Linked DNA regions of Homo sapiens: all the other regions are linked to region 1. The links come from fine-mapping of genetic effects on gene expression. A gene starts in region 1. Each other region holds a variant in brackets. All regions are shown on one strand. Distances are between the middles of the regions. Region 1 holds the start of DHX58 (DExH-box helicase 58). Region 2 overlaps KCNH4 (potassium voltage-gated channel subfamily H member 4). Region 3 has its middle 4.3 kb from the start of STAT5A. Region 4 holds the start of GHDC (GH3 domain containing).

Region 1 (8,000 bases):
CGTTGGAGGATGGGCACCCAGTGGGGGTGCTGACCCCGGCGTGTAGCACACCGCGACTGCCTCACCCATCTGTCTTAGCTGTGGTGTGAGCTCCAGAGGGAGGCCGGCTAGGGTGTGGGGGAGTCCTGCCCTGTCTCACCCGCGATGTGCTCTTACCCTTTGGCCTGGGCACGGTGATGCCTAGTGTAAGGCACATGGACGTGCTTTGGTCAAGGAATAGGCCGAGGCGGACATCCGGGCCAGAGTGACTCAGCGAGTTTGGGGGGCAGGCACGTACTCCACTTGCTATATAACCTGTTTGTGTAAGTTCATACTGGACTCTACTGTCAGTAGAAGGTAAAACTGCCCTGCTGACGCTGTTCACGGAGCTTGGTTCAGCTCGGCACGGCAGGGCACGCTTGCTCGCCCAGAGAGAGAATAATGCTACTAACCCCTGCAAGGGACAGCCGGTCGCCTTGAAGGTGGGCAGTGGGGAGCCAGGAACCCGCTTGTGCCCAGAGGGAAAGAGTTAAGCTGCTGACCCTGACAGAGCTGGCCTTGCCGGCCAGGGAGAGCAGCTGCAGGCGTGGGGGCAGCAGGAGCCACAGGGCCGGAGCAGACAGCCCAGATAAAGGTGGACAGTGTGAGAGAGCCGCTGCTGAATAAAACTACATTTCACCTGCCTATGGCCCCCCAAGGGTTCTTTCAGCTATCTGCTCACTCACTCCCTCCCTCCAGACCACAGCATGGGCTCAAACCTGACCCCAAGTGTAACATTTGGTATAGTTATGGACCTGACACCTAGTCCTTGTCCAGTCCAGTCATGGCAGACACGAGGCCGTGTCCACACTAGAGAGGGCTCAGTAGAGCCTCAGCACAAAGTATCCCTGCTCTCTGGTTTGTAGTGCACTCCCCAGCATGACAGTGATGTGACAGACACCAGTGGTGCCTTCTGAGTCAATCCAAAGAGCGGGCTGTGGGCATGGGCTGTATCTGCCCCATTTCACAGAAAGGAGAAATTGAGGCTTGGATACATAGCAAGTGACCTGAAGTCACAGAGCTAGTGAGGGCAGAGTCAGGGCCCAAGCCTAGGTGTCCTAACTTCACACCGGCTCCCGCTCTCGCCGTGTCCCTGCCCCCGCGTACCTGGCTGCGCCTGTGGCAGAGGTTGTACTGTTTGCAAGGCTGTTGGCTGTGCTCCTGCAGCTGGGGGCAGCAGTTCTGGGGTGACATGATGCACCACGTGTCCAAGTTGGCACAGAGCTGGGGGCAACAGAGGACTTTACTGGAAAGGGAGGGTCTGTGGGGACAATGGTCAAAGATTTGGGGCAGGATGGATCCCAGCTGAGGACAGGAGAATGTGGGCATTCGTCTACTCAAATATTGCTCGCCCTCTCTGTGCCCGTCTTGTTCTAGGCACTGGGGATACAAAGGAACTCAGATTGGAGTTGGAGAGGCAGATAATAAACCAGTAAAAGAATAATAGAACCGGCCAGGCATGGTGGCTCACACCTGTAATCCCAGCACTTTGGGAGGCCAAGGCGGGCGGGTCACCTGAGGTCAGGAGTTTGAGACAGCCTGGCCAACGTGGTGAAACCCCACCTCTACTAAAAATACAAAAATTAGCCAGGCATGGTGGCACGCGCCTGTAGTCTCAGCTACTCGGGAGGCTGAGACAGAAGAATCACTTGAACCCGGGAGGTGGAGGTTGCAGTGAGCCAAGATCGTGCCACTGCACTCCAGCCTGGGTAACAGAGACTCCGTCTCAAAAAAAAAAAAAGAGGCTGGGCACAGTGGCTCACGCCTGTAATCCCAGCACTATGGGAGGCCAAGGCAGGTGAATCACGAGGTCAGGAGTTCGAGACCAGCATGGCCAACACGGTGAAACCCCGTCTCTACTAAAAATACAAAAAATTAGCTGGGCATAGTGGTGGGTGCCTGTAATCCCAGCTACTCGGGAGGCTGAGGCAGGAGAATCGCTTGAACCTGGGAGGCGGAGGTTGCAGGGAGCCGAAATCATGCCACTGCCCTCCAGCCTGGGCGACAGAGTGAGACTCCATCTCAAAAAAAAAAAAAAAAAAGAAAACAATAAAACCTTGCAGAGCGCATTAACAAGCTCTGAAGAGGATAGCACTGGATGATATGACAGAGAGCAGAGATCAGGGAGGACTTTCAAGAGGTGGCATTAAGCTGTTCAATGAATGACAAGGAGGAGGCAGCAGGAAAAGTTCAAAGGGAAGCGCATTCTAGGCAAAAGAAATGGTAAATGCAAAGGTCCCCGAGATGGAACAAGCCCTACATGTTCAACATGCAGAAGGCAGGCCAGTGTAACTGTAGGATGAGCTACAACAGGGAGGGCGCAGGAAATGAGGTGGAGAGGTAGATCACGTGGAACTTTGTAAACCACAGTAGAGTCGGGAGTTAATTCTTTGTACCATAAGAAACCATTGGAGGCTGGGTCTTAGGTGAGGAAGGGGCCAGACCCTGCCATGGAGAGCCTGGTAGGGCTGGTGGGGACGGGGTAGTGGCAGGGCAGGCAGGGAGGGAGGGAAGTCCCTGGTGGGTCTGGCAGTGGGAGGCCCACAGGGGCCAGGCTGACCTGCAGGACGTGGTTGATGGCCCCATCGAGTTTGGAGGCCCCGCCAGTGCCTGGGGAGGCTGTGAGACCCAGCACCTGGGGTAGCGGCTGTGCCCTCTGGAGTTTAAGTTCTAGGTACTGGCTCATGATGACGTTGTAGACGGTGTCCTTGTGCGTGTGGTGGCACTCATCCACCACGATCAGGGAGAAGACTGAGGGCACAGGGGGGAAGGCTGTGACCTATGTTTGCAAAGCCCTTCCTCCCATCAGCTTTCAAGTAGTCCCCACAATGATGTAAGAATTCCTTCTTCCCTTCACAACCTGCAGCTGGTCCCAGGATGAGGAGCCAGGCAGGGAAGACTTCTTTCCATTTCACAGATTAGTAAACCGAGGCTCAGCTGGGGAAGGGACTGGCCTAAGATCCTACACGATAGCCCGGCCTGTTTCTACTAGAGTGCCTGCAGGGGTTTTGTGAACAGGCAACCCCTCACTCCCACTAAAACTCCCAACACCTTGACTCCAGGAGGTGCCCTGGGGTTGGCGAAAGGAGGTACCCCAGATGCGTATCTTTTTCCTCCCGGCCATGGCCCTCACCAGTGAGCTCCACGTGCTCCTCCTCCTCGGGGCTGGTCAGTGCCATCTGCAGAAGCTCTGCTGTGCAGATGAGCAGGTCATGGCACCGGGCCAGGTGGCCAAAGCCAGCACGTGGTCCCATGTCCCCACTCAGGGTTGTCACGGTCCAGCGTCCATCCAGCATGCGCCTGAACTCTTCACCATGCTGGGTCACCAGGTGCACCTGGGGGTGGAGAATGAGCTGGGAAAAGAGAGCTGAATCTGGGGCCAGGGGTAGGGAGGCGGTAAGGTGACCCGCAGGACATGGCTGGGTACTGAGCCAGGGTGGAAAGACAGGTGAGCTTAGCGATGGCCACAGCAGCTTTGGAGTTCTGGTGGGGACTGGGAGATGCCTGAAGAGCTAAGACCCTGCTTGGTGGTGGGAGAGCGGGGTAGGGACAGACCACTCACCCTGTTGACCAATACAACCACCTTGGCTCCATCCACAGTCTCTAGGTGCCGCTTGGCCACATAAGCAGCCGCCCGGGTCTTCCCGGCACCCGTGGGCAGCCAGATGATGATATTCTTGCCCTCCAGGGCAGGCATGATCACCTCCCATTGGTAGGACCGAAGCTCCATTCTGGGAATGGCAGGGGACTCAGACCCACCGACTCCTCCACCCCTCCCAACTCCTGGCCAGACCAGTCAGTACAGAGACCTCCCTTTGCCCAGGACTCCACCCCACTTGAGGGAGGTGGGGCAGGACTCCCTCAGAACCCATCAGGACCCTGCTCTGCCCAAAAGGGGGAGGCGGGAGTAACACAGGCTACACCTGCCCCCTGCCCAGCCCAGGACTCACCTGCTCTAGTAGGTAGGTCTGCCCAGGGCAGTCCCACTTAACTCAGCCTGGTGCCACTCTGCTCAGCTCAGAGACCCAAGATGGAAACTGAAACTGAGGGAAGGAGCCAGCTGAGCCGACTTAGGAATCTCCCATCCCCGCCCCAGGAAAAAGAACCAAGAGAAAAGAACCGTTTGTGCTAACAGTCATCGCCAACTGCCGTGAGTACAAACTCCGGTTAAGTACTGCTGCTGCGCCAGCGCCCTGGCAGGCATGATCACCTCCCATTGGTAGGGCCACAGCTCCATTCTGGGAATGGCAGGGGACTCAGACCCACTGGGCCCTCCACTCATCCCAACTCCTGGCCAGAGCAGTCGGTACAGAGACCTCCCTTTGCCCAGGACTCCACCCCACTTGAGGGAGGTGGGGGGGGGGACACCCTCAAAACTCATCAGAAGCCTGCTGTGGCCAAAAGGTGGGGGTGGGGGGGGGTGGGAGTAACACAGGCTACACCTGCGCCTTGCCCAGCCTGGGTCTCGCCTGCACCACCACGTAGGCCTGCCCAAGGCGGCCCTGCTTAGCTCAGCCTGGTGCCGCTGTGCTCAGCGCAGAGAGCAGAAATCAGAAATGGAAACTGAAACTGAGGGGAGGAGCCAGCTGAGCCGACTTACGAATCTCCTATCCCTGCCCCAAGAAAAAGAACCACGTGTGCTAACAGGGAAGCACTCTTTCAGTGCTACAGGATCCTCTACGCTCTGGCCCTTCTGCAGTCAGTTGTAACCACATCCACCCAGGTTAAGGTGAAGGCAGGAGGTTCTGACCCCTGCTGCCCTGGCATCTGGATCAGGAGCAGCCTGGAGGAGGGAGAGGTGGGGGGCTGCAGGCAGGTAGGACCCATCACCCCAGGAGCACAGGACCAGGCCTGAGGCTTGCTGGGGAGAGCAGCCTCCAGTTTGCAAGAGGTCCCTGGGGGCCAAGGTGAGCCTGCTAAGGCTGGGACTACACCAAAGAAACAATCACACAGAGAAATAAAAAGCTTTATTATTCCCTCTAAGGGATTAATGCCAGGGAATGAATGGTCCCCATACCCCCCACCCCTGGGGGAGACTGACAGAACAGTGCTGGACAAGGCATGGCCCCCTTCAGTTTGGGCTGAACTTCCAACCCCTGAAGCCATCACTCAAGCTAAAATGAGCAGTTCTGGTCCTCAGGGAAACAGCCACCTGGGCCAGGCCCAGGAATCCAAGCCTCCAAAGCTCTTGGGGACCAGGCCTGGGGGCCACCACGGCTGGGCAAGGTTCATCCCTGGCCACCAGCTACTCTAGAGGGGCTGGGCCCCAACCCAGGAGACCTCTCACACACAGTGAAGGCTGGGACAGAGCTGCACGCTTGGGGGTGCCTGAAGGTCCAGAAAGAGCTGCAGGATCGGGTCCGGAGGACCCTTGGCTGGAGTGTCTCAAGCTGAGTCGGGTCCGTGGGGCCAGGGCACCCCCTAAGGATCAGATCAGAATCCGAGGTGGAGACATTCCAGGTCAGGGCTGCGGCCCAAAGATGGGCCTACTTGTCAATGAGGCCTCCCTCCTTGAGCTTGAAGTAGAAGAACTTCTCCAGGGCGCTGGCACAGCGGCAGTACTCGCTGTCCGGGGGGTTGTACTCGCGACAGTTGGCGATGACCCGCTGCAGGTCGGCCACAAAGAGCTTCCGGGTCACGTAGTAGCGGCTTCGCAGCCGCTCAGTCATGGTCTTCAGGTCTGGGGCAGCAGGAGACGGAGCACAGCTTTAAGAGGCTGAAGACCACGGCAGGGCTGTCCACCAGGGTGGGCCCCCTGGGGCTGCAGGGCGCAGTGAGGGCAGGAGCAGGTGTGGGGACAGAAGAGGAGGGAAGGGGATGGAATGGAAGGTCCTCACCAATGGGGAAGCGGATGACCTCGTAGTAGTCAGGGGCCTCCGACTTCTTCACAGGCTCCATGAAGGGCCAGGCACTGGGGTGAGACTGGAGAGAAGAGCCGGGCTGGGGACAGCCCTGCTGCGCCCACGCCAGCCCGAGACCACTACCCACCCCACACTGCATCAAGAGGCCACAGCCATTGGTGCAGGGGCCCTGGAAAGGAAACCTGGTCTCCCCACCTTGATTTGGGCCAGCAGGTTTTTGAGGGTTGTGTAGAGCTGGTCGGGGTCCTTCAGCTCCTTCCTGGGGCGAGAGACACCAAGTCTGAGGCTCCAAGTCCCTCTGCCCCACCCCCAACCCGGCTCCTTTGACACTCACCCCTTCTCCTTCCCCAATGGCTTCCAGCCTGTCTCTCCTGCAAAGTGGGAAGTGGGAGAATGTCTCTAAGAATGCCAGTCCACACCCCAAGCATCGTGCCCCCACTACCCTGCAACTGAGACCCCTGCTTACGAATGCCAGGAACGCTCTCCACAGGGATCTGCCTCACGCCCTCCTTGAAGCAGCTGAGCCCCGGGTAGACCTTGCGGATCTGGGCCTGTTTGCGCTCAATCAGCTTCTTGATGATCTGAGGGAAGGAAGGGACTGAGGGGCCAACTCCAGCCCCAACAACAACCCCTCCCAGGGCCACAGTCGGAGCCACTGGCTGCACCCACCCAGCTGCAACGCCACCTAATCCAGCACCTCCCCTCATAACTTCCCCAAGGGAGCAGAGCAAGAGCCAAGATCCTGGCCTGCCCCTCCTCACTCACACACATATATGCATGTAGACGTAGAACAGGTCTACACACGTGTGCTCGCCCTCTGCATGCCCATTCATGAAAAATCCCACAGATGCGCATGTGTGCACACCACCTCTTTCTGCTTCTTGATGATGTGGGACAGCTCCGTGTAGGGGATGCGGGGATTCAGCTCACACTCCATCAGCGTCGCTCCCTCGTAGTCCTTGATGTAGCCCAGGTAGCGGCTCTTGGGCACCTTGATGTCCTTGGAGAAACCCTGGGGGGTGGATGGTCATGACCCAGTCCATCCATAAGTATTTCCCAACTTCTGTCGTCCCTCACCTGGGAGCACCAGAGGAGTAGCACGTGCCACTTGCCACCTCCTGCTCCTGAACCTCCTCCTGGGGCACTGTGAGGGTTCAAACTGTCCCTGGAAAGGTCCCAGGTCAGCTGCCCACTCCTGACTCATCCCGAAGAGTCCCCCAGTTCCTCCAGCCTGCTCTACTGGCCCCCCAGTTCCTCTAGCCTCCTCTACTGGCCCCCCAGTTCCTCCAGCCTCCTCTACTGGCCCCCCAGTTCCTCCAGCCTGCTCTTGGCCCCCAGTTCCTCCAGCTTGCTCTACTGGCCCCCCAGTTCCTCCAGCCTGCTCTACTAGCCCCCCAGTTCCTCCAGCCTGCTCTAGTGCCCCCCCCAGTTCCTCCGGCCTGCTTTACTGGCCCCCTAGTTCCTCCAGGATGCTCTACTGACCCCCAGTTCCTCCGGCCTGCTCTACTGGCCCCACAGGCCCTCATTCTCCCCTGGGGCAATGGCAGCAGAGGAAAGAAGATAGGCATGGAGACTCTCCTGGCAGGTGTCAGGTGAAGTAGGGGACGCAAAGGGACTCCTACTCCATCCACAGAGGGGCTGGACAGAATTACCCCAGCCTCCAGGCAAAGGACCGGTGTGGGACGAGGCTACGGGTCACCTGCTTTTTGAAGTAGCCGATGGCGTACTCGTCGGCGTAGGTGAGGAAGTAGAGAATGTTGTGCTTGATGTGATACTCCTTCAGGTGGTTCATCAGGTGGGTCCCATAACCCTGCGGGGGAGGGAAGCAGGACTCACCAGGAGCTGAGGATGGGCCTGGTGCTGGAGAGGTCTCAGAGACCAGAGAAGAGCGGGTAGATTGGAAAGGAGGTAGAGAGAGCGAGAGCATCCAGGCAAAGAGGAAGAAAGGCAGCTGACAGAGGAAGGGGAGCTTATGGGGAGAAAGTGAAGGGTGCGGGCTTTCTAAGCTCACTCTGGGCTAGGTGCAGTGCTTCCTGTTTTACAGACCGATTCTCAAATTAACCCCAGAGGCGAGTATTACCACCTTTATTTTACAGAAGAGAAAACCGAAACTCAGCTACG
Region 2 (8,000 bases), 65 kb after region 1:
CTAATATTACCCCAAGTACCATCTGCATTGTGGTTATCAATATTGATTAGCCCTTCAATCTTGGAGATGGGCAGGGCTTATCTTCTGGGTGGGAGCAGCCTGGCAGCTAGGACTGGAGGCTCTGGGGCAGTGCCTGGGGAACTTGGTATGAAAGCCCCTCATTGCCCCTTCCTGGGCCTCCAGGAACATTCCCCACAGCCCTGGCCCTACACTGCTCCTGGACCACCTCGTGCAATTTTTCTCTAATTTTAGGTGAAGGAACTGGAAAGGAGGTGGCTCTGATTCCTCCATATGGACCCTCGCCAGGGTTTAATGCCTACCCCCAGCTCCCAGAGCCCTTGACTGCAAGCTTGAGTTCTTCAGGGCTTCCCTCAGTCAGCTGCCCTTGGGCCACTCTCTTGGGGATACTCCTGTCATTCTCCTTGGACTAGAATATCCAGGCCTGGCTCCTTCAAGTCTGCAGCTCTGCCAGTGCCTGCTCATCTTCTGTCTCTGCTCTACCTCTCTCTGGCCCCCAGTGGTATTCCTCATCTCACCAGACCATCCACTCAGGGGCCCTGGTTACCTGGGAAGCAGGGTGGTATGTTGGAAAAAATACTAGACTGGAAGTTTAGCGATCTGGTTCTTTTTTTTTTTTTTTTTTTTTTTTTTTTTGAGACAGAGTCCCTGTCGCCCAGGCTGGAGTGCAGTGGCGCAATCTCGGCTCACTGAAAGCTCTGCCTCCCGGGTTCAGACCATTCTCCTGCCTCAGCCTCCCAAGTAACTGGGACTACAGGCACCTGCCACCACGCCTGGCTAATTTTTTTTGTATTTTTAGTAGAGACAGGATTTCACCATGTTAGCCAGGATGGTCTTGATCTCCTGACCTCGTGATCCGCCCGCCTGGGCCTCCCAAAGTGCTGGGATTACAGGGTGATCCACTGCGCCCGGCCAAGCTGGAGTGCAGTGGAGCTATCTTGGCTCACTGCAACCTCCACCTCTGGGACTCAAGCAATTCTTGTACCTCATCCTCCCGAGTAGCTGGGACTACAGGTACGTGCCAGCACACCCGGCTAATTTTTTGTGTTTTAGTAGAGAAGGGGTTTCACCTGTTGCCCAGGGTGGAGAGACCTGGTTCTAATATCCTGCCTGCCCCTGCTAGGTATGTGACCTTCAGCAAGTCACTGAACCTCTCTGAGCCTCTGTACCTACCTCTGAAAAAGGATAAGCCTCTGCCCTGAAGGGTTCCCGTGGGGCTCCCATGTGATGATGAGTGTGAAAGAACATAGGGAACTGTAACGTGCTCCCAAAGGGACCTGAGAGGAGGGGCAGGGGGCTCTCTGTAGTGTCCCACTCCCCAGCTGATGGTGCCTGGTGGGCATAGAGGGGTGGGCGCACCCCTGGGGAGGGGTAGGGAGATCTGCTCAGAATGGTCAGAGCCTCGAGGCAGACGTACACACATGCACGTGTGTGGGAGCACGCACACACGTGTGCACAGCCAGGAGAGGAGGCCCACAGCCCGTTGGCGGCTAGTTAAATTCGGCTGCGTGTAGGTGGTTTCCTGCTATAGCTGAGTGCAGGGAGAGAGCACACAAGGAAACTGCTCCCCACTTGCCCGCCCCACACCCAAGGGGGCCTGGGGACACGGGGTAGCACTGCCCCACCCTGGACTTGAGAAGACCTACTATCTGCTGGCTGGGGCCACAGATGACCACTCAGGGCACCTCCAGAGTGTCCCCAGGGATCTGTGAGGACTCAGGTCCTGGCATTCTTTGCCTCTGAATTCACCCCACAGCCTCTACCTTCTTGTCTAGGTTTACTATGCTCCCCCAAATGCTTGCTGTCCTCATCTCCTTCCAGCTAAATCCTACTCACCCTTTAAGGTCTAGCTATACCATCTCCGCCTCCCTCAGGAAACCTTCCCAGACCCCTCCAGCCTCTGCCCAACAAGGGCGCTTTTGCTTCCCAGGTGCTGGCCAGACTTCAGATCATTTTTACACACACTCATGTTCCAGCCTGGAACTCCAAGGTCAGCCCAGCCCCTCTGTAGCATACCCGGGCCCCATCTTCCACCCCCATTCACCTCTTCTGTCCCTGATGTGCTCTGTGGCATTCCTGCCCCCTCACCAGTTTGGCTGTTTAGAGGCTGAATCCTTGTTCCCTTTCCCCACAGTGGCCATGCCCCACACAGTGCTTTGCAGACAGCTAAATGCTCATCAGTTGTTTGTTAAATAAAAATGTGAAAAGTACCACTCATTTGGCATCAGACCAATGCCGCCTTGGTAGCCATAGTTAGCTTTTCATTTGTCTCAGCTTCCCTCAAAGATTGTGAGCTGAGCTCCCCAGGATCACAGACCCTCGGGATCCTCCCAGTACCTAGCACAGGGCTATGCCCAGAGCAGGTGCCTGATAAATATCTGCAGATGGATTGATGGGAAGGGGCATATCTGGGTTTGGGGTCAGTCCCTTCCTGGAAGATGCTGTGCTGAAGTTGGGAGGTTGGACTGGATGGCGGGATGGAGGTCACTCACCACGGTGATGTTGAAGATGTAAAGCAGGTCAAAGGGCAGAGCAGCAATAAGGTCGATGAAGAACCAGGTGGCCAGGTAGTGGAGGCCAATGGAACGAGGAGCAGAGATTACCTGGCCGGACTGGGACACATAGGTGGTGCGGAAGTTCAGGATGATATCTGGGGGTGCAAGAGGCTATTACTGGGGGGCCTTGGCAAAGGGGTCAAGAAACCGACAAAGCTGGGAACAAGCTTTGGAGACTGGAGGAGGAGGCAGGCATGGAGAGATAGATTGGGCTTCTGGCTGGTCCTTAGGGAGGATAGGTTACAAGGCTGAAGGCTGCGGGGAGCAGGACACATGGGCCATTGGGACTTAAAGATGCAGAAAGGAAGGGGCTCTGAATGTCTGGGTCATGTGGGCCCCAGGAGTGGGTGAGGCTTGGCCAAGTGGATCCCCCCAGCCGACCCACCAGGGTGGGTGAGGCAGAAGGTCTGACCTAGGATGAAGAGCATTTCCACGGCGATGTCGCTGACAAGGGTGTGTCGCGAAGTGATGGGGGTGTCATCGTCACCCGAGAAACAGACATTGTAGGGGACGGTGACCGCAACGTAGAAGGTGGCAAGGAGGATAAGGCCGTCCCAGATGGCCTTGGAGACGCTGTAGTGGAGGAGGAGGCAGCGAGACCCCCCCACGGAGGCCACCTTGTACTCGGGCACTGATGGCTTTGGCTCAAACACGTTCTAAGGGGAGAGGGGTGGCGGTTGGGGACACTTGAGGGAAAGAGGAGCCAAGATGGGGGGTGGGAAAGGCAGGGGATGGGGAAAGTTAGCAGGTGGGCACTGCAAGGGCACTTTTGACCATGAATGAAAGGAGATAGAAGGCCAGGAGAGGGGCGCAGAGGCTGACACCTGACATTTTCTTCTCCTGCCAAGTATTTCCCAGGCCCTCCTCCTTTTTTTTTTTTTTTTTTTTTTTTTTTTTTTTGAGATAGGGTCTTGCTCTTTACCCAGGCTGGAGTGCAAGGGCATGATCTTGGCTCACTGCAACCTCCACCTCCTGGGTTCAAGTGATTCTCCTGCCACAGCCTCCCAAACAGCTGGGACTACGGGAACATGCCACCACACCTGACTAATTTTTGTATTTTTAGTAGAGATGGGGTTTCGCCATGTTGGCCAGGCTGGTCTTGAACTCCTGACCTCAGGTGATCCACCCACCTCAGCCTCCCAAAGTGCTAGGATTACAGGTGTGAGCCACTGTGCCCGGCCCCAGGCCCCTGTTTGAACCAATCATGTCTTGTCAAGGGTATTTATGAGGCTTGACATTCACCCAACTTGATTTTTACATTTTTAAGTTTAGAGACAGTCTCACTCTGTGCCCAGGCTGGAGTGCAGTGGCACCATCATAACTCACTGCAGCCTTAAACTCCTGGGCTCAAGCTATCCTCCTGCCTCAGGCTCCAGAGTAGCTGGGACCACAGGCATGCACCACCATAGCCAGATAATTTTTTTTTTTTGAGAGTTTCACTCTTGTTGCCCAGGCTGGAGTGCAATGGTGCAATCTCGGCTCACCGCAACCTCCACCTCCCGGGTTCAAGTGATTCTTCTGCTTCAGCCTTCCAAGTAGCTGGGATTACAGGCATGTGCCACCATACCCATCTAACTTTGTATTTTTAGTAGAGATGGGGTTTCTCCATGTTGGTCAGGCTGGTCTTGAACTCCCGACCTCAGGTGATCCGCCTGCCTCAGCCTCCCAAAGTGCTGGGATTACAGGCATCAGCCACTGCGCCTGGCCTCCAGATAATTTTTAATTTTTTTTTTTTTTTTTAGAAAAGGGGTCTCACTATGTTGCCCAGGCTGGTCTAGAACTCCTGGCCTCAAGCAATCCT[C/T]CTGCCTTGGCCTCCCAAAGTGCTGGGATTACAGGCATGAGCCACTGTGCCTGGCCCAACACTCATCCTACTTGAGAAGAAGACTATGACAAATCGGCACATGCCCTAGCTTGAGGGGTACCTAACTTCTCCCTTAAGTTCCTCTTGGGTTCTGGGGGCCCAGTGGGGGCTGGGTATATCCCAGCAGGGAGCAGAGGCTGGCATAGCCCACCGCATTCCCTGTATCCCTAACAGAGGGTTGGGGACTCAATCCCCTGGCTTGGTCAGGATCCTAGGAGGTGGTACACAGGTCTAGATGCCAGGCCTGCAATGAGGGCTTTCTCCCTAGAACTATAGCAGCTTGCAATTTCACCACCCATGGTATAACCCTATCACCCCCGGGCAGGTGAGGTCATTGCTGCTAGAGCAATGTGACATCATCGGAGCAAAGTAATGTCAATCACCTAAGGGAATGAGGGAGATAGGGATAGAAGGATGTTGGGGGAGGATATAGGATGGAGCATATACCATATAGAGTAGTATATGGGAAATGGGTGGGCAGAGGAGCAAGCCAAGGAGGGACACCAGACAGACAGGGAAGTGGGGAGACAGTGGCAGGGGTGCCTCAGAATCAAGGCTGGAGGACTTGGGAGATGTTGGGTTGGGGGTGGGACTCACATTATTGGCCTTCATGCCTCCCTGGCCCCGGCGGCCAAAGTGGCCGGTCAGTCGGTGTAGGACAGTACGGCTCCGTCTTCTGGCAGACCGAAATTTCCAGGTGGCTCCCCTTCTACCAAGGGAGTTTTCTGTTGGGAAGAAAGGTGCAGAGATACGTTGGGGCACATCCCTTGCGGCTGGTTAGGCGAAGGCTTCTGACCATTCACACTGCCCGTCCGGACTTGCTGTTACCGTGATTACTGTCCCCGCGGCCTCCTTGGGGGCCAAGTCCTGGGCTTCCACTCTGAGTGATATCCTTGAAGGAAAAGAGGAACAGCACGACCTCCCCCATCTCATTCTTGATGGGCATCATGTCCAGGAGGCACCAAAAGGCTGAGCCTGTAGGCATGGAGAGAGGGAAGGGAGGAGCATGGGCAGCCCCATGGCATGCCTTTCTCCTCATCCCTCTCATCCTCCTAGACATAGTTAAGAGCTTGGCAAAGCAAGAACCAAAAGGAACCTCAGAGATTCTGTCAGCCGATTCCTTCATCTTTCAAATGGGGGAACCCAGGACCAGAGAGGTCAGGGATACGCTCCGTCACAGTCAGCTTTTGGCAGTGTGGGGACAAGCACTCAGACTCCTACTGTGCCCAGTGCCCTCTGGATAAGGCTAGGGGTCTAGGCAGAGCTGCAGGGTGGGGTGAGCCCCCTCACCATCCTTGCGGTAGAAGCAGATTTCAGCCCGGTGCTCCTGGTGGCCCTCCAGGGCTTTGTGCAGACGCTGCAGGGCTGGCTCACTGGTCTCTGGGCCGTAGAGGAAACGGCAGCTGCAGGTCTTCTGCATGACCTCGGTGCGACCGTAGCCTGTGAGCTCGCAGAAGCCGTCGGAGCAGTAGACGATGGGAAAGCCCCGTGTGCCCTGTGCGTTGGCCAGCAGGAAGTTGCTGTCTGTGGGAAGAAGAGGTCAAGGTCAGGTCAAGGCTGGGAGGCGAGCTAGCTTCCAGGTGGGCAGCACTTCCTCTAAGTTGGGGTTAGAAGTCACAGAGCCAGAAGCTTCCCAGGTTTCCATGTTGCTCCTGACCCCACTTTGGGATATTCTGAATTGAGAATTGGAGAAGTTGGAGCAAAGAGACAAGGACTTGAGACAGGACTTAAGCAGGGTCTAACGGGGAGTTGGAGAAGGACCCCAGGAGGTCATGCCATCCATCCCCCTGCCTTCCAACTGGTGAGCTGTCACTGTAGAAGGCAGTATAGCATGGTGAGTAAGAGCCTGGGCTCCTGCAACCCTCCACTGCCACTTACTAACTGTGTGACCTTGGGCAAGTTGATGACCTCTTCTGTGCCTAAGCTTTCCTTATTTGCAAAGTAGGGCATAATAGGCCTTCCTCACATGGTCGTTGTGAGAGTTACATGAGTTAACTTGGGGAGAACAAGTCCTAGCACATGGTAAGTGCTACTCTGAGAAGGTGAAATTTTTTCCCCACATTCACTTGGCTTTCTTCCTATTACAGAGTAAGCAGGGCAGAGATTCTGATGACACCACACCCATTTATTGATAGGAAACCAAAAGGCAGAGATTATCCAAACTCACAGATCTCCTTAGTGTGGGGGCAGACAGTGATGAGTGCTGTCTTCCTTCCCTGCCTTCCAGAGAAGGTCCACTTTTTAGCATTCTTGTAGCTGCTTTCAGGGGATCTGCCCCACTGCTCAAAGTCTAATGGGAGAGGGCATTGAGCGTATAGCTCCAGCAACCCCCAGCAGCAGAACCCGAGCTGTCTCCCTCCAGCTCCAATGGGTGGGAGGCCAGGGGGACTCCTGTGGGCCATCCAGGGACAGAGACTCAGCTAAGAGATGGGGCCTGTGACACAACCAGTCCTGGTGCTCTAGGAGGGATGACTGTCTGGGGGCAGGGAGGCTGATGGGGACACTGAAGGTGCCTGGGAGGCACTGGGCTCTGGGCACAGCCTCCTTCTTCCATCCCAGGGCCTGTTGCCCCGGTGATGGGCGCTATGGAAACAAGGTGGTGGGGAAGAGGGTAGGGCCCGGCGGCTCAGTTTCCGCCCTCGGGTACCGCTCCCCCACCATCCAGATCCCGGCCAGGGTTCCCGAGGGAATGGCGGGGTTGGGGGAGGTGAGGGCGGGGAATCTCTGGGTTCCAGAGTGGGAAGAGGGAATGGCGGGAGAAGAGGCGGGGGAGGAGTGATGTGGCTGTCCAAGGTGCTGAACCTGAAACCCAAGCTACGTTGGGCGAGCTGGGAGTTCCCACCGTCGCACAGACCGCTCCCCTCCTCCTGCCTCACCCACCTTAGACACTGACGCCCCACGATTTGGGGGCGCGCGACCTCAATCCAAACTAGGTCCTGCTGAAGTCTGATCTTTTCTCCTTTTTTTCTGGAGGTAGTGGGAGCTGGAGTCTGTGAGTAGACCCCAGAATGCCCGGCCACTTTGCCCCACTTCTGTGTCTCGGATACCCCCATACACGCCCCCAGCACAGCTCTGCCCGAGAGTGGGCGGCTCCGAAGGACCCTCCTCCGCTCTGCCGCACAAAGAGCCTCTTCTGCCTCGAGTCACACCCCCTAACCTTGGCCCCCGTGCTCTCGGCCCTTTCCCCTCCTCCCCTCGCAGGGCACTCCCCGCCCTGTTCCTGCACCGCGGCTTTGGGAGTTCCTAGACCCGCACCTCCATTCTCTCCCCTCGCCTCGGGTCTCACCATGTCCAGGAGATCCGAGACGGCCCCGAGGATACTTGCCCCCCAGCTCGAACCTCAAGCCCCGACCTCCGTCCCACTCACGCGTTCCGTCAAAACGGGTGGCGATGGTGTCCAGGAAGGTGTTTTGCGGGGCCAGCAACCCCTTCATGACCGGCATGGCCCCGGGGCGTGGGTTCAAGGCGCGGCGCTGGGGAGCTTTCAGCGCGGCCGGGCCGGAGGGGGCGCGCTGTCGGAGGGGCCGGGGCGCCCCATGCGCCCTCCTGCCTCCTCCCCTCCCTCT
Region 3 (8,000 bases), 170 kb after region 1:
CTTAGTGCACCAGCCTGACCCAGGAGAGAGGCTTGGGGGAAGAGCCTGGGGGTCTAGTCCACAGCCCTTGTCCATGCATGCCCCTGCTCCCATCCTACAGCCTCCTCCCCTCTCTCTCTCATAGATGAACACATGGCTTTCAGAGGGGGCAGCTTCCCTGCTTCACATCCTCCCTCACTCCTGCCCCAGAGATCATGAGGCCATTTTCTGGGAACGTCACTGAAGCCACAACCATGATCCCCTCTGGCCAGAAACCAGAGGCCTTCGTTATTATGGCTTCCCTCCTGCATCCCAGGAGTCAGGCTGACCCTGGGCAACCACCGGCCACACATTTGCTAAGAAAGGGCACTGTGGGAATGTCCCTTTTTCCCTGTGGGGATGAATCCTTCCATAGGGGGATAGGTCAGTACAGGACCCTGGAGCCATGTGGAGAAGGTATAGGATGCTCAACAGAAAAGAAGGCGGGGATGCCAGATCTCCAAGGCCTCAGAATGGCGTGGCCTCGGTTTGGAATGGGCTCTGCAGTTTCGGAGGGCTCTGTCAGTGCCCCTGCTTACTTCTGCCAGAGCATTGGTGGTGAAAAGTTAGATATGGTTCTAAATCCCAGCTCTGCTAACTTACTAGCTGTTGGCCGGGCGCGGTGGCTCACACCTGTAATCCCAGCACTTTGGGAGGCCGAGGCGGGTGGGTCAGGAGGTCAGGCGATCGAGACCATCCTGGCTAACACGGTGAAACCCTGACTCTACTAAAAATACCAAAAATTAGCCGGGCGTGGTGGCGGGCGCCTGTAGTCCCAGCTACTCCGGAGGCTGAGCCAGGAGAATGGCGTGAACCCGGGAGGCTGAGGTTGCAGTGAGCAGAGATCGCGCCACTGCACTCCAGCCTGGGCGACAGAGCGAGATTCCGTCTCAAAAAAAAAAAACAAAAACAAAAACAAAAAAAAACTAGCTGTGTGACTTTGGTCTAGGTACTTAATGTCTCTGAGGATCTCAGTTTCCCATCACGTGTAAATCATAGTTAGGGGGTAGAGTGTAATATATGTTTCAAATCCACAGAATCCTTCCGTGCATTTAAATGCACAAAAGACCCCAGCAACTGTTGTTGCCCCTCCAGAAGGGCCCTGGGGGACAGGAAAGGGCAGAGACTAACTTTTCACCACATACCCTTTTGAATCTTTTGTTACAAAATACATATATCATGTGCAGATGCTCCCTATTAAAACATTAGTAAAATAGACAGTTTTTTTAAAGGAAAAAGGAGAGCATTTGTGAAGGCAACTAAGCACTGTGCCTGGCACTTGATAAAAAAGCATTTTCTCTCTTTCTTTCCCTCAGCCTAATCCCAGCCAGTGTGCTGGCCAGGAGAGAGCTGGTGCTTTGTCACATGGAGGGGAGGGGAGAGGACGGGAGCGATGGATGTGCAGGTGCATGGAGGACTCGCCACCTGGAGAGTCTCACACACCTGCTCTCAGTCTTGCTCCTGTGTGCCTCACCAATCTGGGCTCCCTTCCAGCCAGAGCTAAAGGCTAAAGGGTGGGCTCTCTGGAAAGGCCAAGGATCCCCCGACCCCGCCTCTTGGGACAGGGTCACTGGGCTCTCTCCACCCAGAGTCCTGGGGGATGCAGCATTATCCAGGGAGGGTGGGGCGGACGCAGAGGAGGGAGCAGAGTGCCACTGCAGCCAGTATCTTGCTGGCTTGCCAGGCAGGTTAAGAACTCAAAATTCAGCCCAGCACCAGGCAAAGATGAGGCTGCTGCTGCCACTGTGTGTAGAAAAGCAGCTCAGTGGGACCAGAGCAGGCAGAGGCCAGGGCAGCAGGGGGAGAGTCTTCTGGGAACCATGGTGGGGGTGGTCAGTGAACAGGGGGCTGCCCTGAACCGTCAAAGCTCCGGAAGTTCTGTGCTGGTTTAGGGGCCTTCATTAATCCAACAGATATTTATGAAGACTCTATTGTGGACAAGCAGTGGGACATAGCCCTTTAGGCAATGTGTTAGGGCCATAAGAAGGGGCCTGTAATACAGATGGGATTGAAGGGCAGAGGAAAAAACACCCAGCTCTACTGGCCAAGGCCTCTGAGCACCTACAATGCACCAGCCACTGTGACTGAGTCTTTTTTTTTTAGACAGAGTCTCGCTCTGTCACCCAGGCTGGAGTGCAGTGGTGTGATCTCATCTCACTGCCACCTCTGCCTCCCAGGTTCAAGTGATTCTCCTGCCTCAGCCTCCCAAATAGCTGGGATTACAGGCATCTGCCACCACACCTGGCTAATTTTTTTATTTTTAATAGAGACAAGGTTTCACCATGCTGAGTCTGTGCTGGCTTGGTCAGGCTGGCCTCAAACTCCTGACCTCAGGTGATCCACCTGCCTCAGCCTCCCAAAGTGCTAGGATTACAGGCTTGAGCCACCGCACCGGGCCTGTGACTGGGTCTTAACAGAAATCCCAGCAGTGGGTCTTGCTATTTCTTTACAAGTGAGGATGCTTAGATCCAAGAGGCAGACTCACTCACTCAAGATCCTACAGCAGAGCCAGGGTCTGCACCAGGACCTTATGACTCCAAAGCCTTTGTGTTTTCCTCTAGGCCACACTAACCCTAGGAAAGATGAGGCCAATTTCACCAGGTGGCCAAGGGAGGAATGACATTCCAGGTAGATGGAATGAAAGGGGCTAGTGCTTGGAGTTGAGAGGCCAGCGTAAGGGGAAAAGCCTGGCCGAAGCACTTTTTTGAGGCTTGGAGCAAGGAAGATGTGGGTAGATCTGAGACTTAAGAAACGAAGAAACAATGAGAAACAGATTCTACAGAAAGGAACCCCCTCCAGTCATAACAAAGGAAAGTGGCAGAGTACTGGGAGGTGTCGTGGAAGATGCTCAGCCCCCTCGCACACAACCCCCAGAGGGCTTGAGGTTGGGTACTGGGCTGGCCAAGGCACAAAAGATTTCTTGTTGGGCTGGAAGGAGGAGAAACTAGCTCAGCGGGAAGAGCGGCCTGATAGTCATCATGGATGAGGATGAGAAGCCAGGCTTGACCCAGGGCTGCCCAGGACAGTGCCAATTCCACTCAGCTGCCTGGCTCTGTGTGCCCTCTCTCCTCTCTCCAGGCTCCTGGGCCTGGCCCTGCAATGAGGGGGCTGCAAAGGGTGGGCTCCTCCTGCCCACCTGACTGGCTGGGAAATGTGAACCTGGCACAGACTCTGCATCCTCTTCTCTTCGTCCAGAA[A/G]GAAACCGGCCTACAAGCCTCTCCCCCAGGGCAGGCAGGCTGGGCAGCTGGGCAGAGGAAGCAGGACTCCTCTCCTACCCACCCTGTCCAGCCCCACACCCTTCCCCTCATGCTATTCCCAGAAACAGAGGACAGTCACTATGCCTCAGGCAGGATGGCCTTGTGTTCTCTTGGTGACTTCACTGTAAAGTGACTTCCCTGAAGAGTGGTGGATAGGGGACAGCGGCAGGAACGGGCTTCACCCAAGCTCCGGCAGCTCCTTCCCTTCCCCCAGATTTGCACAGAAGTCCTCACCCTGTGCATATAAACACACACCCTCCCTAGGTCCTGATCTGTCTTCTTGGACAAGAATGGGGGTGGCATTTCTATAGGGAGGTACCAGGGCCTGGCCTCAGAGGTGGGGTATACTCTGAGCATGGGCCCATGGCCCCACTTCTAGAAGCCTTCTCCGGTGGGGGCTGGAGTGCAGGTAGGCTGTCCAAGCAGAGGCAAGGTGGGGGTGAAACAGGATGTTTAAGTGCTCCAGGGCTTCTCCCCTTTGCCGCAGGGTGAAAAGATACTTCCTAGAAAGCCTCCAGCTTTCTTGGGAAGGCCCTTCACCCCTACCCCACCTCCCCTCTGGCTCCCATGTAACAGGAACTCTCCTTGAAGAAGGGACTTGGAGCACAGGAAACAAAGGCATCTCTGTACCACCTCCCTCCACCCCCCAAGGAAGGTCAAGTCAAGGTGACCTCAATCTGTTCTCCCCAGGGTAGGGGCATGGGCAGACCTGATCGTCAAGGGCAAGGCAGAAAGGGGACCTGGGATAATTCTTTCTCTCTCCCTCTTTTTTTTTTTTTCTTTTTGTGACGGAGTTTCGCTTTTGTTGCCCAGGCTGGAGTGCAACGGCGTGATCTCAGCTAACTGCAACCTCCACCTCCCTGGTTCAAGTGATTATCCTGCCTCAGCGTACTGAGTAGCTGGGACTACAGGTGTGCACCACCACGCCCAGCTAATTTTTGGATTTTTAGTAGAGACGGGGTTTCACCATATTGGCCAGGCTGATCTCGAACTCCTGACCTCAGGTGATGCACCCGCCTCAGCCTCCCAAAGTGCTGGGACTACAGGCGTGAGCCACCATGCCCGGCCCTTTGGGATAATTCTCTTAATCCATAAACTCAAACCCACCTTCATGTAAGTGTGCACAGAGCACACTGTCCCATTCAATAGAGCAGGGGTGTAGGCTGGGCGAGAATGGAGATGCCATGCTCCGCACCGCAGAAAAATGGTGGGCTAGCCCAGCCCAGGGAGGCCTCTTCACTCCGCCGGTGTGTGCTGGGCTTGGGGAAGCTTAGAAAGGTTATACTGAGACCCTGCCCACAAGGCCCGGCAACTTGGATCCTGGTGCCATCTGTGCACTTACTGGCCAGACAGCTTTGGGCAGGTTTCTTTCATGGACTAATCAAAGGGTGTGATTCTGGCCCTGACTGCCTTCAAGGTTATTGAAAGGATCCGTTGAGTTGAAGAGCACAACCATGTCTGTACACAAATGTGCCTTGATGTAGTTCAGGATACGAATATAGTGTGCCAACTGAAGCCTAGGCTGCAGACTATTATTATTCCTAATAAAATATAGGAGGTCTTCTTTTGGAGAATATATTGCTTTTTTTTTTTTCTTTTCTTTTTTTTTGAGACAGAGTCTGACTCTGTTGCCCAGGCTGGAGTGCAGTGGTATGATCTCGGCTCACTGCAACCTCCGCCTCCTGTGTTCAAGAGATTCTTGTGCCTCAGCCTCCCGAGTAGCTGGGATTACAGGTGCGTGACACCACGCCCAGCTAATTGTTTTGTATTTTTAGTAGACACGAGGTTTCACCATGTTGGTCAGACTGGTCTCAAACTCCTGGCCTCAAGTGATCCTCCCACCTCAGCCTCCCAGAGTGCTGGGATTACAGGCGTGAGCCACTGCACCTAGCCTGGGGAATATATTTCTGTAAGATTTCTAAAATCCTTCCTCACTCCCCATCTAATACTGTGACTTGGATTTGGGGGTGAAGAGCAGTTAGGGGCAAGGAGGCCAGCCTCGGACCGCAGCTCAGTCAGACCCTTGACAGTTTCTGATCTTCCTGAACCCCCATCCCGTGGCCTCAGTTTTCTCCTCCACAGCCTGGTTCCCCAAAATCACCAGGGCACTTTGTGGTGGGAAATCACCCACACAAGGGGACAAACAAGGGGACTGAAAGCAAAAAGAAACCCCAAATTTGACATTTCTGGGTAGTTGTGTTATCTGGAGCCACGACTACAGTCACCTCTTCCCAACCCAACTCTGACACCCTTCCCTCTACTCCCTTGGGTGCCCTTTGCCCATCCTGGGAAAGTTCCATAGCTCCTCCTCCTCCCCACTGCATCTCAAAGGGAGAACAGGCCTGAAGAAATGGAGAGAAACCCAGACAGAATCAGAGAACCAGATGGAGACCTAAGGAGACAAGGGAGAGACACAGAGAGAATAAAAGCCAGAGTGGGGGCCGGGCATGGTAGCTGATGCCTGTAATTCCAGCACTTTGGGAGGCCGAGGCGGGTGGATCACCTGAGGTCGGGAGTTCGAGACCAGCCTGACCAACATGGAGAAACACCGCCTCTACTAAAAATACAAAATTAGAAATACAAAATTAGCCAGGAGTGGTGGCACATGCCTGTAATCCCAGCTACTCGGGAGGCTGAGGTAGGAGAATCGCTTGAACCTTGGAGGTGGAGGTTGCTGTGAGCCAAGATCGCGCCATTGCACTCCAGTCTGGGCAACGAGAGCGAAACTCCATCTCAAAAAAAAAAAAAAAAAAAAAACCCAGAAGGGGAAATGTGCAATGAAAGACACAGATATTCGGGGCCTTACAGTCAGAGACCAAATGAGGGATGGTCAACCAAGGGCACAGCCACTGGGCACAGGGTCAGGGTGGGAGGCACGGGAGGGCTCTGAAAACACAGCCACACACCCTTTTAGGCCCATCCTTCCCATTCTGTACTCTGGCACCTCAATGCTAGCTTTTTAGGACCTAGGACTACCCACACTAAAGCCAAGCCCGGCCCAACCAAGACAGATGTTTGGTGGGTGGGGCTGCCTGCTGGAGCAACAGGCCTCTGCAGGCCCTGGAGGAGAAGTCTAGAGAGGTGGCTGCCTGGAAGAGAGCAGGCAGGACCCCCTCTCTTAAGCAGGCACCCCCACCCCATCAGGTGCCCAGATGTCAGTGCATGGCAAGGGTGGCCCTCTGCCCTCCAGACCTGGGTGAGAGGACTTGAAAACCTGAGGAATCTGCTCCCATCAACTGACTTCCACACCTGCCTGAAGGGAACTGCTGGAGGGCACAGGTGCCAAGTGGGACCCACCCAAATGTGGCAATGGGTTTGTATCCAGCCACCGACAGGCTGCATGACGGTGGCAAAGTCACTTCCCCTCTCTGGCCTTTGTTTTTCCACTTGTAAAATCATCTTTATGGTCACTTCCAGCTGTGGCACTTGGCTTTCATTCCAGTTGACCCCCTAGCTCTGTGTCTGACCCTCCCCTGCCAAATCCATTGCTCAGAGTGGGAAAGGAGAGGAGAGGGACTATACTTCCTCCTCCCTGGGGCCCCCTGCAGAGCATCTGGGAAGCAAGGCTTCCCTACATCCTCCATGCACCCCCTTAGAGTTTTCAATTCCTTTCCTCGTGATCCTGCCAACTAAGACACTGTGACCACACAGAGAAGGTGGGGAGAACGCAGACATTTTGGCTTCTGCAGCTTTGAAGTTCTTTTTTTTTTTTTCCTCTGAAGTTAAAAGAATGAAACTGGGAGAGGTAGTAAGGGGCAAGAAAGGAGAGTGGAAATGGAGAGAAAAGGGCAGCTCTGAGAAGCAGCTGGGGAGGGAGGCAGATGAGAATGCACCCCCCCCAACAGAACATGCAGTCTTGGCCCAGCTGTGCTGTGAGTGGGCAGCTGGGCTGGCCCCTCCTCTGGTGCTGCCAACCCGCTGCCAGGCAGAGGGGAGGCCCAGAGGAGAGGGAAGCTGGGCAAAGGGGATGGAAGGCGTCCAGCCCGACCTTACCAAACCCCTTGGGCCTCGTGGGAAGGGGCCTCTTGGAGAGGGGGACTGAGGCTCTAGACAGGATATTCACTGCTGTGGCAAGGCCTGTAGAGAGTTTCGAAGTTAGGAGGACTCAAGACGGTCCCTCCCTGGACTTTTCTGAAGGTAGAACCAGCCTCATAAGTAACTAGGCTGGGTGAACGGGGGCGCTGGCTAGTTTATGGATCACAGTCGGCTGGTGAGGCCACGTGCCTACTGTGTGGCCCTGGGTGGCCCCGGGCAAGCCCCTTTCCCTCTCAGGACTTCCATTTCTTACCTGCAAAATTGTGGAGAGGGGGAGGGCTGAAACACATGACTGCCAAGATTCTTTCCAGTTCCTCCGTCAGGGTTGAGTTTAGATGGCCGGAGTAAAAGAAGGAGGGAGGTGCTGCGGTGGTGGGGGTGATCTTGGCTTCACTAGAATCCCCAGTTCTTCCCCTCTCTACAGTTTTGTCTCTGAGGTCACAAAACCTGTGGCCCCCAAGACACACATGCGCACACACGCGCGTGCACACACACACCCCACACATTTATTTTTTAATCTAGGGGCTCAAAAGATGACACGCGCCAGAGCTGGAAGGCGTCGCCAATTGGTCCACTTTTCCCTCCTCCCTTTTTGCGGATGAGAAAACTGAGGCCCAGGTTTGGGATTTCCAGAGCCCGGGATTTCCCGGCAACGCCCGACAACCACATTCCCCCGGCTATTCTGACCCG
Region 4 (8,000 bases), 80 kb after region 1:
GGCCTACAACCTCTTTATTGAGCTCCTGCTGCATGCCACACCAGGCACTGGGCATGGGGGCAATTGTGCACAGGATCTAGCCCAGTTTCCAAGGAACTCATATTCCAGGTGGGAGGCAGTTCAGGCATAATGATAGTTCAGTGAAGGAGAGGACTACTGCCCACATGAGCAAAGCTGAGCCAGTCACTCTGCCTGGGGTGGGCCTGGTAGGGGGTCCTCAAAGGCCTTGCATGAAAGCTAGTTTACATCAGGGGCAGCGGGATAGAGGGCATTACATAGAAGGGACAACTTGAGCAAACTCCTGGAGTTGACAGTGCTTAACAACCCTTAGATGGGAGGTGAGGCGTGGTCCTTAGTCCAGGCCTTCTTTCAAGCAAGGGGAGAGAGGTAGCTGCACATGTAGGTGAGGGCCAAGGTCAAAGGGTCTAATAGGCCAAATTGATTGGTCTTAATCCTGTGGGCGATGGGGGCCACCATGGGAGGTTTTTTTTTTTGTTTTTTTTTCCCGAGATGGTCTCGCTGTGTTGCCCAGGCTGGTCTTGAACTCCTGGGCATGAACCATCCTTCCACCGCAGCCTCTTGAGTAGCTGGGACTATAGGCCCATGCCACTGTGCCCAGCTTCACAGGAAGATTTTAACAGGATGGAGTGACAGGCGGAGGTGGGGGCCGGGTGGGTATGCAGCCAGGACCTGGGTGTGGGACATGGAATGGAGAAGCTATTCAGAGGCATCTGGATCCAGTGCTGCCTCTACTGAGGAGGAGCTGAGGTCTGCCCCTCCCATCAGCCTCCAAGATGGAAAACCTTAAAACTCCAGTCCAGGCAGTGGGAGGGAAGGAAGCCAAAATCTAGCCCAGTTTCTTTCTTTCTTTTATTTTAGCCTCTACAACCTTGTGGAGGCTGCGTTTCCTCATTAGTATGGAACAGTGAACCCAGATGGTCTCCGGAGTTGCTTCCTGCGGCGATGCCTTATGATGTGAAGTAATAGCTCTCCCTTCCCCACCGCAGAAGTGGTTTGTGGGTGCTGGCCTAGGATGTGCCACGAGTCCTCCAAGGCTCCTGTGTGCGCATGCAGCCTTGCCAGGCCCAGAGCAGAATGTTGGGGGAAAGTCCTGGAGCTCAGTGGGGGAATGGCTGGGCCGGGGTCCACTCCCGTTTCCCCAAAGCAGACCCTGAGGCAAGAATCTGGGTGCAAGAGGTTTATTTGGGAGCCATCCCAGGAAGCCCAAGGCGGGGGAGTGGGGAAGAGAGGGAAGGGAGAGCCCCCGCAGGAAGTACATGAATGAGTGGGTTACTGCTGCGGGCAACTGGGACTCCATCCTGCTGGGCATCCTCTGAGAGTTTATGTAGAATACACTTCAGAATTGTCCTGCTCAAGGACAATGAAGCTGAGGTCCTGCTCCTTATTGACTCAGGGTTGCTGCTCCTGGGGACATTAACCCCCCAACACTTCTAGCTTGCCCAGTGCACTGACTGAGCACACAGCTGTGGCCACCAGAGAACCTCTTTGGGCTGTGATACAGGAAACCATCGGTGTGCATGGTAACTCTCTAGCAGTGTCCTTCATGCCGGGACATGGGGACACGGGCAGGCACTGCTGGCATCTGCTAACCCCGGAGGCCCATACTTCAGAACCGGTCAGCTGGGCCAAGGCCTCTCTAAGGCCCAGCGGCTCTCATGGGCAAATGTCAGGTGACACAGAGTCAGAGACCCTGGCCAAGGACTCCCCATCCGGAGAGGTCCCAGAGGGAGGGGCGAGGTGGCCTCTGGGGGGAGCTGGGCGGTGGGGCAGGACTTGACTCAGGACACCACCCTCTCCTGCAGACACTGGGCCAGGTGCCTGTGCCGAAGGACCCGGGGCATCGCAGGGGGGAAGGGGGAGGAGGGGCAGGCAGCGAGGGCTGCCCGGAGTGCTCGGAAGGCTCCCTGCCCCACCAGGTGGACTCTGGCAGGGCCCACGCTGCCCCAGAACCGCAGGGACTTGTAGCGGGGAGAGGCTTCCTGAAGGCAGTGGTCCAGCTGGGAACAGAACAGCCTGAGTGAGCTGGTGTGTGACTGTGAGTGTGCACACGAGGCGTGTGTGGCTGTGCCCAGGCTACATGTGTTTAGAAGTTTTGTGTGGACAGGTGTGTGTCTGTGGGACTTAGCCCTCCCCTCCCAGAGCCCCAGGGAGCTTCTCCTCCGCCACCCCTCTCCTTCCCATCAGCCCTGATCTCCATGGCACCCTGGGAGTGTGCAGAGTGAAGGGGTCTACAGTCAGACCCTGTCCTCGTCTCCTTTACCTTGTCTCGATTTTCCTCTGACAGATTCCTCAGCCCCCTCAGCGCCACAAACACCTCGTAGTGGGGAGCAGAGCCCGCAGAGGAATCTGTGAATAGACCCCATGTGCACACATACTTCCGGTGAATGGGCAGCTGCCAAGTCTAGTGTCCTCTGCCCTATCTGTTCTTCCCCACTCTGAGATTCATAGGGAAAAAAGAGTTTCTTGGTGGGGAGTGGGGTAAATGGAGAGGAACCTAGAGCTTGATCCTAAATAGGAGACAGATCAGGAAAGAAAATGGGTAGAGACTGCAGCAGGATGGATGAGAGTTAGATGCAGAGAAGGACTTTTGTAGGAGTAGTAAAGGAGGCTTATCTCTTTCCTAGCAGTCCCCTGGCAGGGGAGGTAGGAGTTGAAGGGTAGCTCAAGGATGGTAGGCAGGAGCCGGTGGGGAGGCTCACCCAGAATGCTGCTCTCCACACAGCCATGGTCCAGCAGCTTGGCCCCCGCCCACTGCCCCACTGCCCGGCCCAGGGCCTCAGAGAACAGGTCTTCACCAATATCTTCCCCTCGCACACTCAGGGTCTGGTCCAGCCTGAAGAGGAGGAAGGGAGAGGCAGTGGAGCCCAGGACACAAGGATGGCCCTTCAGCTCCCCGGGGTCACCTACCTGCAGATGAACCTGACGACTGGACACTGATTGTAGGCACCAACCACTCGCACCACATCACCCAGGCGGCACCTGATGGGGTGCAAGTGGGAGTGAGGTCGGGCCCAAGGTCTTCTGAGCTCATGCCCCAGGCCCCCAGCACGGTCCCATAGGGCCCCAGGTAGCAGGGGCTGTGCAGCTGATCACCTGGTGAGGCTGGCGCGGTCCGTCAGCACCAGCTCATACTCCTTGCCCTGCTGGGCCTCGGCCAAAAGGAGGGTGGAGGCAGCTTCCTCCTGGGTGCCTTCCTTGACTGGGAGCAGCTCGATAAAGGGGGCCCCAGGGGGCAGAAGGTAGAGCCCATGGGGCTGCTCTGGCTGTAGGTTTAGGCCCAGCACCCCTGTGAAAGCAAAGCAGCCTCCTCAGCGTCTGCTGGTGCCATCGCTTTCTGCCAGGCAATAGCCCCTCCTGGATCCCAGGCCTGATCCTCTGAGCACCTGATCCTCCTGCTGCCCTTCCACCACATCCTTCCTGGCTCCCCCAGCCTCAGCGGGCTGCCTCTTAGGCCCTCACTGGAAAGAGGCAGAGTGCTGTGGTCCTGGAGGGGGCAGACTTGGGAGTGAATCCTGGTGCCACATGAATTTGTGCAAGACTCTTTTTTTTTTTGAGACAGAGTCTCGCTCTGTCACCTAGGCTGGAGTGCAGTGGTGCGATCTCGGCTCAGTGATTCAGTGATTCCTGGGTTCAAGTGATTCTCCTGCCTGAGCCTCCTGAGTAGCTGAGATTACAGGCGCCTGCCACCACACCTGGCTAATTTTTGTATTTTTAGTAGAGACAGGGTTTCACCACATTGGCCAGG[C/T]TGGTCTTAAACTCCTAACTTCAGGTGATCCACCCACCTCAGCCTCTCCCAAAGTGCTGGGATTACACCCGTGAGCCACTGCCCCGGCCTTTTTTTTTTTTTTTTTTTTTTGAGACAGGGTCTTGCTCTGTCACCCAGGCTGGAGTGCAATGGCGCGATCTCAGCTCACTATAATTTCTGCCTCCAAGGTTTAAGCAATCCTCCCGCCTCAGCCTCCCAGGTAGCTGGGATTATAGGCGTGCACCACCATACTCCGCTAGTTTTTGTATTTTTAGTAGAGATGGGGTTTCGCCATGTTGGCCAGGCTGGTCTGGAACTCCTGACCTCAACGATCCATCCACCTTGGCCTCCCAAAGTGCTGGGATTACAGGCGTGAGCCACTGCACCCAGCTACAAGACTCTTAACCTAGAGAGCCTGAATTTCTTCACTTGTAAAAGGAGGCTGCTGGCCCTAGCATGCAGCTTGTTGGGGAGGATTAAATGAGATGATTATGTAGGGCCCAATGCATGGCTGCTTGTCATGTGACCACTGACCGTTGCCCCCACCTCACTGCCCTTGAGTCCCACTGACCTCCCGAGGCAGCATAAGCAGGAGAGAAGAAGGCTAGTCCTTGGCACCACAAGGCCCCGAGGGCAGCCACAGCCTCGGCCTGGCCTCCTGCATCCAGAGTCACCACCACCTGCAGCTTTGGCCAGAGCCGAAGGGCCAGTCCCCGTGGCCCCTGCTCTAGGGCCTCCCGGAGCTCAGCTGCCCGTTCACGGAGAGGCGCTCCAGGGTTCCCGGCAGCTATCGCCCCAGCTAGCTCTTCACCATCAGTCTCCAGGCCCAAGAAAACATCCAGAAGTTCGACAGCCGTCCCAGCCTCCAGTGCCCTCAGCCCTGGGGACCTCAGTGCGTCCAGCAGCAGGGCCCTAGGGTCCTTGGTTCCAGGGGTGCCCACCTGGCCCAGGGTATTCCCAGGCCAAGGCAGGGGTCGGGGCCAAGGGGATGTAAGCGTCACACGGGCAGTGCGTCCCTGAGCCAGCACTTCTGGGTAGGCCTTGTTTAGGGCTGCCAGACCCAGCAAGGTGGCCTGGAGGAGGAAAGAGAGAATGTTGGTCTGGTGTCAGAGCCAGACCCAGAGCCCCCATTTGGGGGTTCTTTGCCCACCATGACTGGAGGGTTTGGCTGCAAGTCAGAGGTCTCTGGTGGGACTGGGCTGTGGCCAGGACTGGGCTCTGGCCATCCTAGATTACCTGCAGAGAGGCCTCCCCAAGGTCCTGGTTTGAGGTCGGGGGCAGTGGCTGCTCTCCACTGTCTTCCTGCTGGGTCTGGCTGGCCTTGGTCAGAGGGAGATGATTCCGGAAGGTGCTTATGTCTATAGCCCCAATGACAACAGAAACGCCTCAGGAAGCCAGTTTCCCAAGAGTTTCAGGCAAGACTGGTGAGACCCTTGAGGGAGGAACCGAGAATAGGCCTGGGGTAGAGAGGATGTAAGGACCCAGCATGGGAAATTCATCTTGGACAAGAAAGCCAGTCCTGGGTCTCTGGGTCAGGCCACTCCGTTGGCAGTGGAGGAGGTAAGGGGGCCATCAGGCTCTGGAATCTGACGGTCCTGTGGGGTTTCTTTCTCTTTGGGTCACCTCCCCAGACCCTGGGAAACACACCTGTGCTCCTTCTGAGGGAACAGTGGGGGCGCTGGGCTCCCTGTAGACACCACCTCAGGGCCTGCTGCTGGCTCTGGTGCACATGGAGCGTGCTCTGCTCCAGCCTCCGCCGCTGCCAGGTGGCTGCCCAGACCAGGGCCCCCCATGCCACTCGGTGCTGGAGGCCAGCAAGCCAGGACAGCCTGGCATCCTGGGACCGCTGCTGCCTGAGCAGGGCCAATGTTGGCAGCAGCAGCAGCAGCAGCAGCAGTGGCCACAGCAGCATCTCCAAGCAGCTCCTGGGAAGAGGAAGGAACCGAGATATGGGGGCATGCAGCAATTATCCATTTCTCCTCCCACGCTCTACTGCATACAGGAAAACCGAGGAAAAATGAAATTGGGAAGAAGGCAGGACCCTGTGGGGCAGGTGATGCAAAGGAGAGACTATCAAAGCTTTGGAGTCCCACTGACCTGAGTGCAGATCCTGCCTCTGCCGCTTGTTAGCTGTAGGGCCCTGAGCAATTTAGTGGGCTGCACTGAGCTCTGTTTCCTGATCTGCAAAATGGGAATAAGAATAAGAATGCCTCTTTCAGAAGGTAGGGGTGGGCCGGGTGAGGTGGCTATCATCTGTAATCCCAGCACTTTGGGAGGCTGAGGCAGGAGAATCACTTGAGCCCAGGAGTTTGCAACCGGCCTGAGCAACATAGGGAGACTCCATCTCTACAAAAAATTGAAAAACTAGCCCAGCGTGGTGTCACACCCATAGTCGCAGCTACTTGGGAGGCTGAGATGGGAGGATCCCTTGAGCCCAGGATGTCAAGGCTACAGTGAGCCAAGATCGTGCCACTGCACCCCAGCTTGGGCAACAGAGTGAGACCCTGTCAAAAAAAAAAAGAAAAGAAAAAAAAGGGAGAAAAGAAGGAAGAGGAAGGGAAGGTACAGGAAGGGTTTCGGACAGGGTCGGTCGGGCACACAGCAGCTGCGTAACGATATCTCTTGCCCACTCCCGAGTGGCTTTGCTTTCTCTCGGGATCCACCCTGTCCCAGCTCCTTGTCCCTCCTGAGCCCCAGGCTGTGGGGTCCATGCCCACATGCACCTGTCACAGCCCACTTCTGCCTACTCCTGGCACGTGACGGAGACCCCTGGGTGACTCTGGGTCTCAGCACACATCCGGCCAGAAAGAAGGAGCGATGGCTTTAAAAGGCTGGGCCCCAACTGGGAAATCCGGCCACCAGGCCTGAGGGAGGAGCTGAAGGAGGGGGGTGCTCTTAAAGGGGCAGGTCGCCTACAGGACTTCATGTCGGGTGCTAGCCCAGGCTGGCAGTTGGGGCAGTTAGGACCAGACTAGCATGGTCCTCAAACTTGCGCAGGTGAAGGAACAGAAAGGTGTGTGTGGGAAAGAACGCCATTAAGCCACTTGAGCTGGGAGAGGGGCAAGCTTAAGAACTCTTAAAACCCCAACTCAGCTGGGCGCGGTGGCTCACGCCTGTATTCCCAACACTTTGGGAGGCTGAGGCGGGTGGATCATCTGAGGTCAGGAGTTTGACACCAGCCTGACCAACATGGTGAAACCCCATCTCTACTAAAAATACAAAATTAGCCAGATGTGGTGGCACATGCCTGTAATCCCAGCTACTTGGGAGGCTGAGGCAGAAGAATCACTTGAACTTGGGAGGCGGAGGTTGCAGTGAGCTGAGATTGCGCCATTGTACTCCAGCCTGGGCAATGAGCGAAACTCCGTCTCAAAAACAAACAAAACAAAAACAACAACAAAAAAAACCCCATCCTCTCCCTCAAGGTAGTTGAGAAAGAAAACAATTTTATTATTGAATAAGCATTCAACCACAATGTGATGTACATGACAGGTGATCTGCTAAGAGCTTGCAAAGAAGGGAGGAAATCTTACTTTTTTGTATAGCCAAGCGCATACAACCCATTACATACACGTTTTCAAGATAAACAATAACGAGTCCTCAAGTAAGAGGACTTGTCACATATAGTTTATCTTTTTTTTTTTTTTTTTTTTTTGAGACACAGTCTTGCTCTGTTGCCCAGGCTGGAGTGCAGTGGCACAATCTCAGCTCACTGCAACCTCCACTTCCCAGGTTCAAGCGATTCTGCTGCCCCAGCCTCCCAAGCAGCTGGGATTACAGGTGTGTGCCACCACGCCCAGCTAATTTTTGTATTTTCAGTAGAGATGGGGTTTCACCATGTTGGCCAGGCTGGTCTCAAACTCTTGACCTCAAGTGATCTACCCTCCTTGGCCTCCCAAAGTGCTGGGATTACAGGTGTGAGCCACCACACCCAGCCAGTCACATAGTTTATCTTAACTTTACATGGTTATTAGGTGAACATCTGTGTTAGCTTGCTGGCTTTATCCCAAGGAAAATTACAAACTTCTTTTTTTTTGTTTTTTTGGCAGAGTTCTATTCTTGTTGCCCAGGCTGGAGTGCAATGGCACGATCTTAGCTCACTGCAACCTCCGCCTCCCAGATTCAAGCAATTCTCCTGCCTCAGCCTCCCGAGTAGCTGGGATTACAGGCACGCATCACCACACCCAGCTAATTTTTTGTATTTTTAGTAGAGACGGGGTTTCACCATGTCACC

Evidence for each region.
Region 2: its variant is fine-mapped to the expression of DHX58 in fibroblasts (GTEx, PIP above 0.99).
Region 3: its variant is fine-mapped to the expression of DHX58 in whole blood (TOPMed, PIP 0.98).
Region 4: its variant is fine-mapped to the expression of DHX58 in whole blood (INTERVAL, PIP above 0.99). The same link has a PIP of 0.9 or more in lung.

The regions. Positions count from the first base shown.
Region 1 is chr17:42,108,145-42,116,144 of GRCh38, forward strand. It overlaps DHX58 (DExH-box helicase 58), which reads right to left and starts at 4,570. Exons shown (of 14, transcript NM_024119.3): 1 at 4,461-4,570; 2 at 3,969-4,061; 3 at 3,581-3,749; 4 at 3,152-3,353; 5 at 2,579-2,769; 6 at 1,126-1,242. The coding sequence starts at 3,748. It overlaps KAT2A (lysine acetyltransferase 2A), which reads right to left. Exons shown (of 18, transcript NM_021078.3): 12 at 7,579-7,689; 13 at 6,748-6,891; 14 at 6,346-6,460; 15 at 6,214-6,250; 16 at 6,075-6,138; 17 at 5,856-5,940; 18 at 4,967-5,698. The coding sequence ends at 5,505. RefSeq lists enhancers at 1-280, 4,078-4,177, 4,418-4,937, 7,637-8,000, 7,896-8,000.
Region 2 is chr17:42,173,069-42,181,068 of GRCh38, forward strand. KCNH4 (potassium voltage-gated channel subfamily H member 4) reads right to left here. Exons shown (of 17, transcript NM_012285.3): 1 at 7,802-8,000; 2 at 5,725-5,958; 3 at 5,263-5,409; 4 at 5,032-5,159; 5 at 2,986-3,229; 6 at 2,511-2,668. The coding sequence starts at 7,877. Among named protein-coding and RNA genes, the nearest start is that of KCNH4, 4.1 kb to the right of the region's middle. RefSeq lists enhancers at 5,315-5,816, 6,467-7,034 and a silencer at 7,984-8,000. The variant C/T (reference allele first, on the strand shown) is at 4,375.
Region 3 is chr17:42,280,224-42,288,223 of GRCh38, forward strand. It overlaps a transcript of STAT5B not described here and a transcript of STAT5A not described here. Among named protein-coding and RNA genes, the nearest start is that of STAT5A, 4.3 kb to the right of the region's middle. RefSeq lists enhancers at 6,989-7,048, 7,332-7,832 and silencers at 7,849-7,928, 7,949-8,000. The variant A/G (reference allele first, on the strand shown) is at 3,216.
Region 4 is chr17:42,187,904-42,195,903 of GRCh38, forward strand. It overlaps GHDC (GH3 domain containing), which reads right to left and starts at 6,591. Exons shown (of 10, transcript NM_032484.5): 1 at 6,490-6,591; 2 at 5,864-5,947; 3 at 5,414-5,691; 4 at 5,003-5,124; 5 at 4,338-4,839; 6 at 3,115-3,307; 7 at 2,929-3,000; 8 at 2,721-2,854; 9 at 2,282-2,367; 10 at 1,184-2,018. The coding sequence starts at 5,678. The coding sequence ends at 1,800. RefSeq lists enhancers at 5,079-5,609, 6,504-6,733. The variant C/T (reference allele first, on the strand shown) is at 3,767.